Linked DNA regions of Homo sapiens. The main gene of each other region encodes a partner of the protein of the gene in region 2 in a complex. Each region holds a gene or a part of one and is shown on either strand. Other genes may lie near its edges.

Region 1 (3,751 bases), on a different chromosome or scaffold from region 2:
TGTGGTATTTGAATAGAGTGGCCTTCCTAATACAGCTTCTGTTTCGGACTTCCCAGGAACATCCTCAAATTCTGCTCACTTCCTTTCTTGAAGATCTAACCTGTCTCGTTCCTACTTTCTCCCACTTCCAACACACACACACACAACCCACCCACCCACACAGACACACACACACACAACCACCCCCCCCCCCACCCCAGGTAATACCACTGACTGCAAACAGCATGCAACCAGATTGACAAAAACCCGTGAGTTCCTGCACCTTTGAGGTTCTTGTATGATAAACAGCTGCAATTATCCTGGAGCATTTTTATGAGACGGGCTTGAAAAATGAGGGGAGAGTTCTAGTCCGTCATAGTGCCTGGTGCCCCCTGCTGTGGGGTCGGGAGGGATCCAGAAGCTCGCTGTCGTCCTGGCCAGAGTTGCAGGGCTCCCCTCTGTGTGCCTCCCAGGGTGTGGTGCTGCAGCAGGACAGCTACATTGAGGACCAGAAACTGGTGCTGAGCGAGAGGGCGCTCACTCGCAGCTTGTCCCGCCCGAGCTCCCTCATTGAGCAGGAGAAGCAGCGCAGCCTGGAGAAGCAGCGCCAGGACCTGGCCAACCTGCAGAAGCAGCAGGCCCAGTACCTCGAGGAGAAGCGCAGGCGCGAGCGTGAGTGGGAAGCTCGTGAGAGGGAGCTGCGGGAGCGGGAGGCCCTCCTGGCCCAGCGCGAGGAGGAGGTGCAGCAGGGGCAGCAGGACCTGGAAAAGGAGCGGGAGGAGCTCCAGCAGAAGAAGGGCACATACCAGTATGACCTGGAGCGACTGCGTGCTGCCCAGAAACAGCTTGAGAGGGAACAGGAGCAGCTGCGCCGGGAGGCAGAGCGGCTCAGCCAGCGGCAGACAGAACGGGACCTGTGTCAGGTAATGGGACTCCCTGCCGAGAGCAACCTAATGATGATATTAATTAAGACCCCCTGTGTATTAAGCAAGGTAAGAAAGTGAGCAGAAATATAGAGCCTGTTTTTGGCCAGATGCTCATGCCTGTGATCCCAGCACTTTAGGAGGCTGAGGTGAGAGGGTAGCTTGACCAGCCTGGGCAACAGAGGGAGACTCTGTCTCTCCTAAAAAAAAAAAAAAAAAAACAAACAAACAAACAAAAAAAAAAAACAGTTTTTAAGAATCTTTGTAGCTGGACACAATGGCTCACACCTATAAATCCCAGCACCTTGGGAGGCCGAGGCAGGTGGATCTCTTGAGGCCAGGAGTTTGAGACCAGCCTGGTCAACATGGCGAAACGGCGTCTCTACTAAAAATACAGAAATTAGCTGGGTGTGGTGGCAGGCGCCTATAATCCCAGCTGCTTGGGAGTCTGAGGCATGAGAATCGCTTGAACCGGGGAGGTGGGGATTGCAGCGAGCCGAGATCTCGCCACTGCACTCCAGCCTGAGCAACTCCGTCTCAAAAAAACACACACAGAAAAACAAAAAGAATCTTTGTTTTACCCCGAAAGAGAGGCAGAGGCAGAAAGTCTTCTTCTGCTTTTTGCATCTCTAAGAGGCTGAAAAAGAGAATGGAAGTGCTGGGGCATTTTGGCCAGGGCAGTAATGGATATTTGGAGTTGGCACTTCCCTCAGCTAGAGGAGTCTCAGTGTGTCTGAGAAAATGGCAGTCAGCCATCCAGGATTTTAGGAGCAACGCCACTGCTCTGTGCCACATCAGAAATCAGGCATGGCCCCAACCTGAAGGAACTTGTAGCTTAATGGGGAAGCACACCAAGAATAAAAGAGCCTCCAGAACATGTGGTGCCTGTGGTCCTGAGACAGCAGGAAATGGCTCTCAGGCCAGAGTTGCTGGAAGAACCCATGTGGCAGGATCGGTGGGAGGCAGTTACAGAGGGAAACGCCCATCCCAGCAACTAGGGGAGGCCGCCACTCCTCTCGTGGATGGATGATATTCTTGCTTGGGGATGTTGAGACAGCTGCACTCTGCATAGTTCCTGATTTGCCTCTCTACTGCTGATGAAAAACCTCTCTTTCTCTATAGCTGCTGCTTATATTGGAAGGCTTTTGGTTATTCAGCACACTCACTCCTGAGCTTATTTCAGTGATATTCCTTGGTTATTTCGAAACATGGATGCTTGTGGCAGATGGAGAGCCTGGGTGTACACAGATCTGCCTGTGTTTTGAAATGCATACCATGTTGCCGTTTGTTTGATTGATTGATCTTGGACCACGAAAGAAAATTATACTGACAGCTTCCAGGGTAGGGGGCAGTTGTAGCTTTCTGCAGATGTTGCCAAATATATTGGGGGTGGGGAGCAGCAAATGCCATGTGTTGCTTTTTATGACATAAGGAGGGATTCCACCCCCATCCCAATAAAATCGGTGCTTTGACAAAGGAGGGTTCCCAGGCAGCTAAGAGAACCCAGAGTAGATGATCCTCTTTATCTCTGGTTTAACCTGTGACTAGGATTCTTGGTGTAAGCTCGGCTTTTCCACTTATCCTCTAACCGGAACAGGCTTCTATAATCTCTTTGCCTTAAAATAATTATCTGCATCCCTGTGTAGAGCAATCTTAAGCAGCTCTCCTTGTTTCTTCAGGGAATGGGAATTCTTTTCTAAGTCGCCCCATCAAAGGTACTATTGGTTTTTTACAACGCCGGCGTTTGTGTATGTAGTAAAAGTATTAACAGCATTAAAGGCGATATTTTTAACATGTTTATAGATACTACTTGGGGGAGGGCAGCTAATGAAACCTTCAAGCTCTATGCAGTCCACAGACGTGAGCTCTGTAGAGTTCGCAGAGGTGGGTAAGTACCCAGCCAGCACACCCAGTTGAATTCAGCCAGGATTTATTGAGTTGGCATCACGGACGCTGACAGCCTCCAAGTGAAAACCCTTCTCTTGAATATGTACAGGTTTCCCATCCACATACCAAGCTGATGAGGATCCCATCGTTCTTCCCCAGTCCTGAGGAGCCCCCCTCGCCATCTGCACCTTCCATAGCCAAATCAGGGTCATTGGACTCAGAACTTTCAGTGTCCCCAAAAAGGAACAGCATCTCTCGGACACACAAAGATAAGGGGCCTTTTCACATACTGAGTTCAACCAGCCAGACAAACAAAGGACCAGAAGGGCAGAGCCAGGCCCCTGCGTCCACCTCTGCCTCTACCCGCCTGTTTGGGTTAACAAAGCCAAAGGAAAAGAAGGAGAAAAAAAAGAAGAACAAAACCAGCCGCTCTCAGCCCGGTGGTGAGTCACGCACACCTGCTCTCCCTGTGGCCATAGTGTCTGTGCATTCTGAGAGAGGGTAGATTTTAGTGGCATGGGGCGGGGTTGAAAAGGGGACAGTTCAGATGCTCAAAAGCCAAACTGCCATCCTTTTCACCAGCTCCGCTTGCTAAGAGCACTCATGCAGCGAACATTAAGAACCCACTCTGTGTGGCACGTGTGCAGAAGCAGAGAGCATGGGTTTCATTTTCAAGGCATTATCCGATCGAGGAACTGGAGCTCACCCCTCAATGAAGTAATTCAAGTCCTCCTTGCCTTTCTGGGCCTAGAGTAGTCATTGGTAACAGCTAGCATTTGGTGATTTAACCCTCAAATGACTGTATGAAGTTGGCACTGCTAACCCCAAGAGAAGTGAGGAAACTGAGGCTCACAGAGGCTAACTAATGTGCCAGCGGCCACAGAGCCTGCGGCTGAATTCCACTAAATGCCTCCCTGTTCATGTACCACTTTTTCCCCTGAATCCTTCTCTTTAGGATTGAT
Region 2 (3,751 bases):
GTGGCTCATGCCTGTAATCCCAGATACTTGGGAGGCTGAGGCAGGAGAATATCACTTGAGGCCAGGAGTTTGAGACCAGCCTGGGCAACATAACAAGACTCATCTCTACTGAAAAAAAAAAAAAAAAAGAAAAAGATAATAGACATGCCCCTTTCTGCCAGGATTTTCTTTCTTTTTCTTTTTTTTTTTTCTTTTTTTTTTTTTTTGAGATGGAGCTTCACTCTTGTTGCCCAGGCTGGAGTGCAGTGGCGTGATCTCGGCTCACTGCAACCTCTGCCTCCTGGGTTCAAGGGATTCTCCTGCCTCAGCCTCCCGAGTAACTGGGATTACAGGCATGTGCAACCACGCCTGGGTAATTTTTTATTTTTAGTAGACATGGGGTTTCACCATGTTGGTCAGGCTGGTCTCAAACTTCTGACCTCAGGTGATCCACCTGCCTCAGCCTCCGAAAGTGTTGAGATTACAGGCATGAGCCACTGTGCCTGGCCGTTTTTATTTTCTCTTCTCTTCTCTTCTCTCTTTTCGACCGAGTCTTGCTGTGTCACGCAGGCTGGAGCGCAGTAGCACGATCTTGGCTCACTACAACCTCTGCCTCCTGGGTTCAAGTGATTCTCCTTCCTCAGCCTCCCGAGTAGCTGGCATTACAGGCGCGTGCCACCACGCCCAGCTAATTTTTTGTATTTTTAGTAGAGACGGGGTTTCGCTATGATGGCCAGGCTGGTCTTGAACTCCTGGCCTCAAGTGATCGCCTGCCTCAACCTCCTAAAGTGCCGGGATTACAGGCATGAGCAACCTTGTCTGGCTACTGCCAGCATTTTCTGACTGGGCCCTCTCTCCCATTTCAGGTGAAGTCAGCACTGTGCTTAAGCTGGATAACACAGTGGTGGGGCAGACGTCTTGGAAGCCATGTGGCCCCAATGCCTGGGACCAGAGCTTCACTCTGGAGCTGGAAAGGGTGAGCTGCGTTGGAGGACAGCAGGGCCTAGAGGAGGAGGGGTTCCATGCCTCTGGCACCCTGAGTGATGGCCCTCTTCCTCTCCCTCCAGGCACGGGAACTGGAGTTGGCTGTGTTCTGGCGGGACCAGCGGGGCCTGTGTGCCCTCAAATTCCTGAAGTTGGAGGATTTCTTGGACAATGAGAGGCATGAGGTGCAGCTGGACATGGAACCCCAGGGCTGCCTGGTGGCTGAGGTATAGCCCACACCTGACCCTGAGAAAATGCTTCTTCTCCCTCACTGCCCCATTCCCAGTTTCCTAGAAGGGGAAAATATGTTTTAGGTCTGGCTCTTCCAGAAGGGGAAGATAAGTTTTAAGTCAGGCTTTTCTAGAAGAGGAAAATAGATTTTAGATCCAGCTCTTCTAGAAACGGAAGATATGTTTTAACTCTGCCTTTTCTAGAAGGAGAAGATACGTTTTAGGTCAGGCTCTTCCAGAAGGGGAAGAGACGTTTTAGGTCTGCTTTTTTCTAGAAGGGAAAGATATGTTTTAGATCAGGCTCTTCTAGAAAGGGAAGATAGGCTTTTGATCTGCCTGTTCTAGGCTGGGCGTGGTGGCTCATGCCTGTAATCCCAGCACTTCGGAAGGCTGAGGCAGGAGGATCACCTGAGGTCAGGGAGACCAGCCTGGGCAACATGGTAAAACCGCGTCTCAACTAAAAGTACAAAATTAGCTGGGCGTCGTGGCACATGCCTTTAGTCCCAGCTACTTGGGAGGCTGAGACAGGAGAATCGCTTGAACCCAGGAGGCGGAGGCTGCAGTGAGCTGAGATCCCACCACTGCACTCCAGCCTGGGCGACAGAGTGAGACTCTGTCGCCCAGGAGTCTCACAAAAAAAAAAAAGATCTGCTTGTTCTAGAAGGGGAAGATACATTTTAGATCAGGCTCTTTTAGAAGCATAAGATATGTTTTAGATATGGTTTCTCTTAATACAGAAAGATAGTTTTAGATCAGGCTCTTTCAGAAGTGGCAGGTATGTTTTAGACCCGTGTATTCTAGAAGGGGAAGATACATTTTAGATCTGTCTCTGAACCTTGATAGAAAAGTACACCTTGGCCAGGTGTGGTGGCTCACGCCTGTAATCCCAGCACTTTGGGAGGCTGAGGCAGGTGGATCACTTGAGGCCAGGAGTTCCAGACTAGCCTGGCCAACATGGTGAAACCCCATCTCTATTAAAAATACAAAAATTAGCTGGGCATGATAGTGGGTACCTGTAATCCCAGCTACTTGGGAGGCTGAGGCAGGAGAATTGCTTGAACCCAGGAGACAGAGGTTGCAGTGAGCTGAGATCACGCCATTGCACTCCAGCCTGGGCAACAGAGTGAGACTCTTGTCTCAAAAAAAAAAAAAAAAGAAGAAGAAGAAGAAGAAAAGCACTTCTAATTAGCCACATCAGTGATAGGACCTTAGCTGGGATTGGTTTTGTTCTGAGGCAAGATACTTAAAAAAAAAAAAAAAGAAGAAGAAGAAGCTGATTTCCAAATTTAGAAATGTTTAAAGAAAAAAGGAAATAAATTATAAAATTTCTTCCAACCAGGAAAGAGATACAAAACCTGGCAACATATCGTGGTGATTGCTACCAGAGCCACAGTCAAGAGAAAGTGATTCCTTCCACAGCTGTGTGAGGGTGAAGGTCTGAATTGAGGTGGCCTACCCTTGGCACTGTTGACATCTGGGGCCACATCATCCTCTGTGGTGGGGCTGTCCTGCATACTAGAGGATGTAGCACCTCTCCCCACTGCTTACAGGATGTCAGTAGCACCACCTCCCCCTGAGTTTTGACAGCCCAGAGGTCTCCAGACACTGTCAAGTGCTCCCTGGCCGGGAACCCCTGGTCTAAATGACATTTCTAGCTGAGTTCTCATAGTATAAGCCAGGCTCTGTAGCGAGTACTTTGGCGACGTGAACTCATTAATTCTCACAACCAACCAACAAAAGAGGGACTGTTATTACTCAAATTTGACAGAGGAGGAAACTGGGGCACAGAGAAGGGGCACTTGACCCCTCATTTAGCCAAATTATCCTAAAAAACTCTTTTAATCTTCCGCTAACCTATATGTGTACCCCATTTTACATATATATATGATAGATTACCTATATATGTATACACACACATATTATCTATTATTTACCCACCTACGTGTCCATCCATCCATTTTGTCTGTCTATGCATTCATCCATCCATCTTTTTTTTTTTTTTTTTTTTTTGAGATGGAGTCTCGCTGTCTCCCAGGCTGGAGTGCAGTGGTGCGATCTTGGCTCACTGCAACCTCTGCTTCCCGGGTTCATGCCATTCTCCTGCCTCAGCCTCCCGAGTAGCTGGGACTACAGGCACCCGCTACCACGCCCGGATAATTTTTTGTATTTTTAGTAGAGACGGGGTTTCACCCACCGTGTTAGCCAGGATGGTCTCCATCTCCTGACCTCGTGATCTGCCCGCCTTGGCCTCCCAAAGTGCTGGGATTACCGGCGTGAGCCACCGCGCCCGGCCCAGCCATCTTATCAATGCATCCTCTATCCATTGATAGATACACCTATATTATCTGTCTTATCTATGTATCCATCTATATTAGGTATCTATATCATCTATTTATCTAATCCATCTATCCATTTATCTATCTCTATCTATATATTATCTATCAACCAATCTATTTTTCCATGCATCCGTCTCTATTATCTGTCAGTCATCTTATCCATCAATCTTATGTATGCATCATCCATCCATCTATCCATCCCTGTATATTTCTCTGTATATA
Region 3 (3,751 bases), on a different chromosome or scaffold from region 2:
AAAAGTTTTCCTTACTCCTATATATAAGAACAGGTAGGGACCTAACCCGTTATTTCCTCTGGGCGTTGTGATATCTTTGTGTGATGACTGTAAACAGGAGAGGAGCCGAGGGCAAAGGCAGCCTATTGAGCATGGCAGGGCAGAAAGAAGGGAAGGTTCATTCCACTCTCTGAATATGGTTGAGCCAGCTTATCTTACTGCACCTGGAGCCTGCCCTACCTCTGGGCTTCTTGTTATGGAAGATAATAAATTTTATTACAGTTTAAATCAGTGGCTTAAGGACTTTAGAGTTGTTCTTAATCACTGGGAAGGCTCCTTAAAATGCAGACTGCAGCTCCTATCCCCAGAGTTCTGATTCAGTAAGTCTGGGTTTGGGCCTGAGCATCTGGATTTCTAGCAAGTTCACAGGTGATCCCGATGCTCCTGGTCCTGGGGCCACACTTGGGGAATTATTGGAGTAAGCCAGTTGCAACTGGGTTTTCTGCTACTCGAAGCTCAAAGATAGATCTTAACTGATTGAGGTGGTATCCTCTGAGTCTTTAGATCATCTGGAAATGTCATAATTAAGTTTCTGGAATCTAGCACACATCTAATACGGGAACACTAACTTACTTGAGTCGGACCTGCTTCCAGGGTTGCCATCTGAATTGGTGAATAATGTCTGAATGGCAAGTTGGACTGCTTTCACTTCATCCTGAGGTTTTGTTCTACTCCACTGAATCGAATGGACATGTTTAGTGCTTTTTGGAGTTCTAACATCACTCTGGTAAAACAAACAAACGAAAAAGACAAAAAAAAGACAAATAGAAACATATGACCAAATAGACACACATATATAAAATGGGAAAGAAAGTCATCCAGGTTATTATATCACTTCAGTTTCACCTCTTAGAACACTATCATAATGCACTAGGAAAATATTCTGAACAGTTGGCCCAAATATGCTAATTCAATGAAAAGAAAAATTTTAACCACTTTATTTCTTAGTGGGTTATAGCACTTATTCCTTAATGGATTATAACATAAATTTCTTAGTAAACTATAGTAGCTAAAAAATATGGTTGTCTTTTCCCAGAATTTATTATATTTGACAAATCTCAACTTACCTCTTTGTTTAATAAGAAATAAAAAATTACATCTTCTATTTATAGTACTTGATGACAGCTATTTTGTTGAATAAATGAAAATCTGACCACCATGTTTGCCTAAGACTGAATTTGGATCATCAAGGAAACTGAGTGAAGGTGGTGGGGTGAATTACCTGCACGGAGGGGAAAGGGTCTCAGATGCAAAAGTGAGACAGGATCAAGAAGTAAGAAATGGGGACCAGGAAAAGGAGAGGACACTAGGTCAAGACACATTACTTTCTTGTTCTGAAATCTCCCTCCTCACTAGCTGTCACCAATCAGTGTCAATTAAAGAGTCTCCAGGATTCAATATGGTTAGGGAAATCTGTTTTAAAAAACTCTGAAGTGAAAAACCCAGACAAAAGTGGCATATCATCATGGGGTCTGAAAAAGGAGGAGGAGGGAGAGAGAAGAAGAAAAAGAGAACTGGGTGTGCTGTCTCCAAAACTGTCTAAGGCAGGCAGAGGTAGAATCTGGTTGTTCTAATTGTCCGATTACTAACAAGAGGGCTTTTCCTGGGTAGTGAGGACCAGTTAACAGGCTGTAGAGTAGTCTAGTTTCCAAGTTCCTCAAGACCAACCAGCCTCTTTTGTTTGGGTTTTGCACCTTGCAAGCAATGCTTTGACAAGTAATATAACTTCTCAGATGCCTCATCCCTGACAACCTGTGCACCCCAGCAGGTGAGGATAAATAACTGCTGTAAAACTTTTTGGCTTCCAGCCTGGATAAGTGGACTGGCCAGAGTTTGTATTGCTTTGCTTTTCTTTTTTTTTTTCTTTTTTGAGACAGTTTTGCTCTTGTCTCCTGGGCTGGAGTGCAATGGCGCAATCTCAGCTCACCACAACTTCTGCATCCAGGGTTCAAGCGATTCTCCTGCCTCAGCCTCCTGAGTAGCTGGGATTACAGGCATGCACCACCATGCCCAGCTAATTTTTGTATTATTAGTAGAGATGACGTTTTACCATGTTGGCCAGGCTAGTCTCGAACTCCTGACCTCAGGTGATCCACCCGCCTTGGCCTCCCAAAGTGCTGGGGTTACAGGCTTGAGCCACCGTGCCTGGCCCAGGGTTTGTATTTCTAATATTGAAAAGCCAAATCCTGGCAGCCCAGGAAACCATCAAAATGCCACACTCACAGAGTCCTCTTTGAGGTGGACTTCATCTTACTGCAGCCACTGGGAGCTAACAGGGTAGCCAGGGAAGCGCAGAAAGTGTTTTTTATAGTCAGAAAACATGGAATTGACTTCAACAATTCTGTCAGTGAGGACCTCACACCTCAAGACTTCCTTTCATCTCTCTGAGCCTATTCTTCCTATCTGCAAAATGAGGATAATAATATCTTTCAGTATTTTTTTTTTTTTCTGGAGACAGGGGTCTCACTGTCTCACCCAGGCTGGAGTGCAGTGGTGTGATCTCGGCTCACTGCAGCCTCAACCTCCTGGGCTCAAGCAATCCCCCGACTTCAACCTCCCGAGTAGCTGGGACCATAGTCATGTGCCACCACACCTGGCTACTTTTTGTATTTTTTGTAGAGATAGGGTTTCATAATGCTGCCCAGGCTGGTCTCAAACTCTTGGGCTCAAGTGATCTGCCCACCTCAGCCTCCCAAAGTACTGAGATTACAGGTGTGAGCCACTGCGCCTGGACGATATTTTTCAGTATTGATTTACATGAAGTTAGTGTGATCAAACTGGTGTAAGCACCTCTAATAGTGCCTGGTTCATGGTAGATCCTTAATAAATGTTTCTTGAATGAATGAATTGATGAATGAATGAAATGCATGTCCCTTTGATGGTGGGTGCACACTAATATTTCCAGGTGTGCCAAGACTGTACTATAACTGTTGCCTTCCACCCACTCCCACCGGGTCTACGTACCTTGTAAGGTGTATGTCCTACCAGCCATGAAGATCTTGTTGATTTAAAAAAAATTAGTATTAACTATTAGTATCCCCAATACCAAACATCTTACATGGTATACAGAAGGTGTTCAATCCATAACTAATGAATGACTGAAGTACTACCTCAGTCGCTATCTGGGTAAGTTTATCCTGTTCTCTTTTCTTCCCAACACGTTGTGAGAGAAATTATATTGATCTTCCTATGTTCATGTTGGTTGGTTTACTCCCAATAAATTATATGCTCTGGGTATATCTCCCAATAAATTATATGCTCTGAGATAACAGATAAATTTATATTCATTAACTGATGGTGAGGCCACCAGCCTCTTGCCCCCAGAGCTTACCTCATATGTGACAGTGCACTCCACAGTCTGACTTTTTGCTATTCCTACAATCCACTTCTCCATTACAAATGGTGGCTGAAAAACAAAAGTTAGGATGGTGTAGTACCATAACACAGTCTGCTCTACTATAGTATGTTTCTTTGAGGCCGGTTGTGCCATACACAATTAGCAAATAGGGGCATAATATCAGATTATCATGAAAGCCTTGTTGGTTCTCATGTGATCACTCACAACATGCTAATGTTTGAAGTTTTGCTTTTCATAAGACATCCTTTTGTATATTTGTAAACAGCTAGTCATGGCCTCCCACAATCTTCTTTTCCGATATAACATTTGCTATCACTCAATCCTATCATTAGGTCATTAATTCTTGCTAAAGTT

Evidence for each region.
Region 1: PKN1 (region 2) and AKAP13 share a complex: the UniProt entries of both Homo sapiens proteins name them as parts of the signaling complex.
Region 3: PKN1 (region 2) and MAP3K20 share a complex: the UniProt entries of both Homo sapiens proteins name them as parts of the signaling complex.

The regions. Positions count from the first base shown.
Region 1 is NC_000015.10:85,740,594-85,744,344, forward strand, and holds part of AKAP13 (A-kinase anchor protein 13), read left to right. Parts: intron 1-452; coding exon 453-902; intron 903-2,898; coding exon 2,899-3,232; intron 3,233-3,751. UniProt on the Homo sapiens protein: Scaffold protein that plays an important role in assembling signaling complexes downstream of several types of G protein-coupled receptors.
Region 2 is NC_000019.10:14,457,186-14,460,936, forward strand, and holds part of PKN1 (serine/threonine-protein kinase N1), read left to right. Parts: intron 1-845; coding exon 846-955; intron 956-1,046; coding exon 1,047-1,190; intron 1,191-3,751. UniProt on the Homo sapiens protein: PKC-related serine/threonine-protein kinase involved in various processes such as regulation of the intermediate filaments of the actin cytoskeleton, cell migration, tumor cell invasion and transcription regulation.
Region 3 is NC_000002.12:173,260,757-173,264,507, reverse strand, and holds part of MAP3K20 (mitogen-activated protein kinase kinase kinase 20), read right to left. Parts: intron 3,446-3,751; coding exon 3,371-3,445; intron 764-3,370; coding exon 613-763; intron 1-612. UniProt on the Homo sapiens protein: Stress-activated component of a protein kinase signal transduction cascade that promotes programmed cell death in response to various stress, such as ribosomal stress, osmotic shock and ionizing radiation.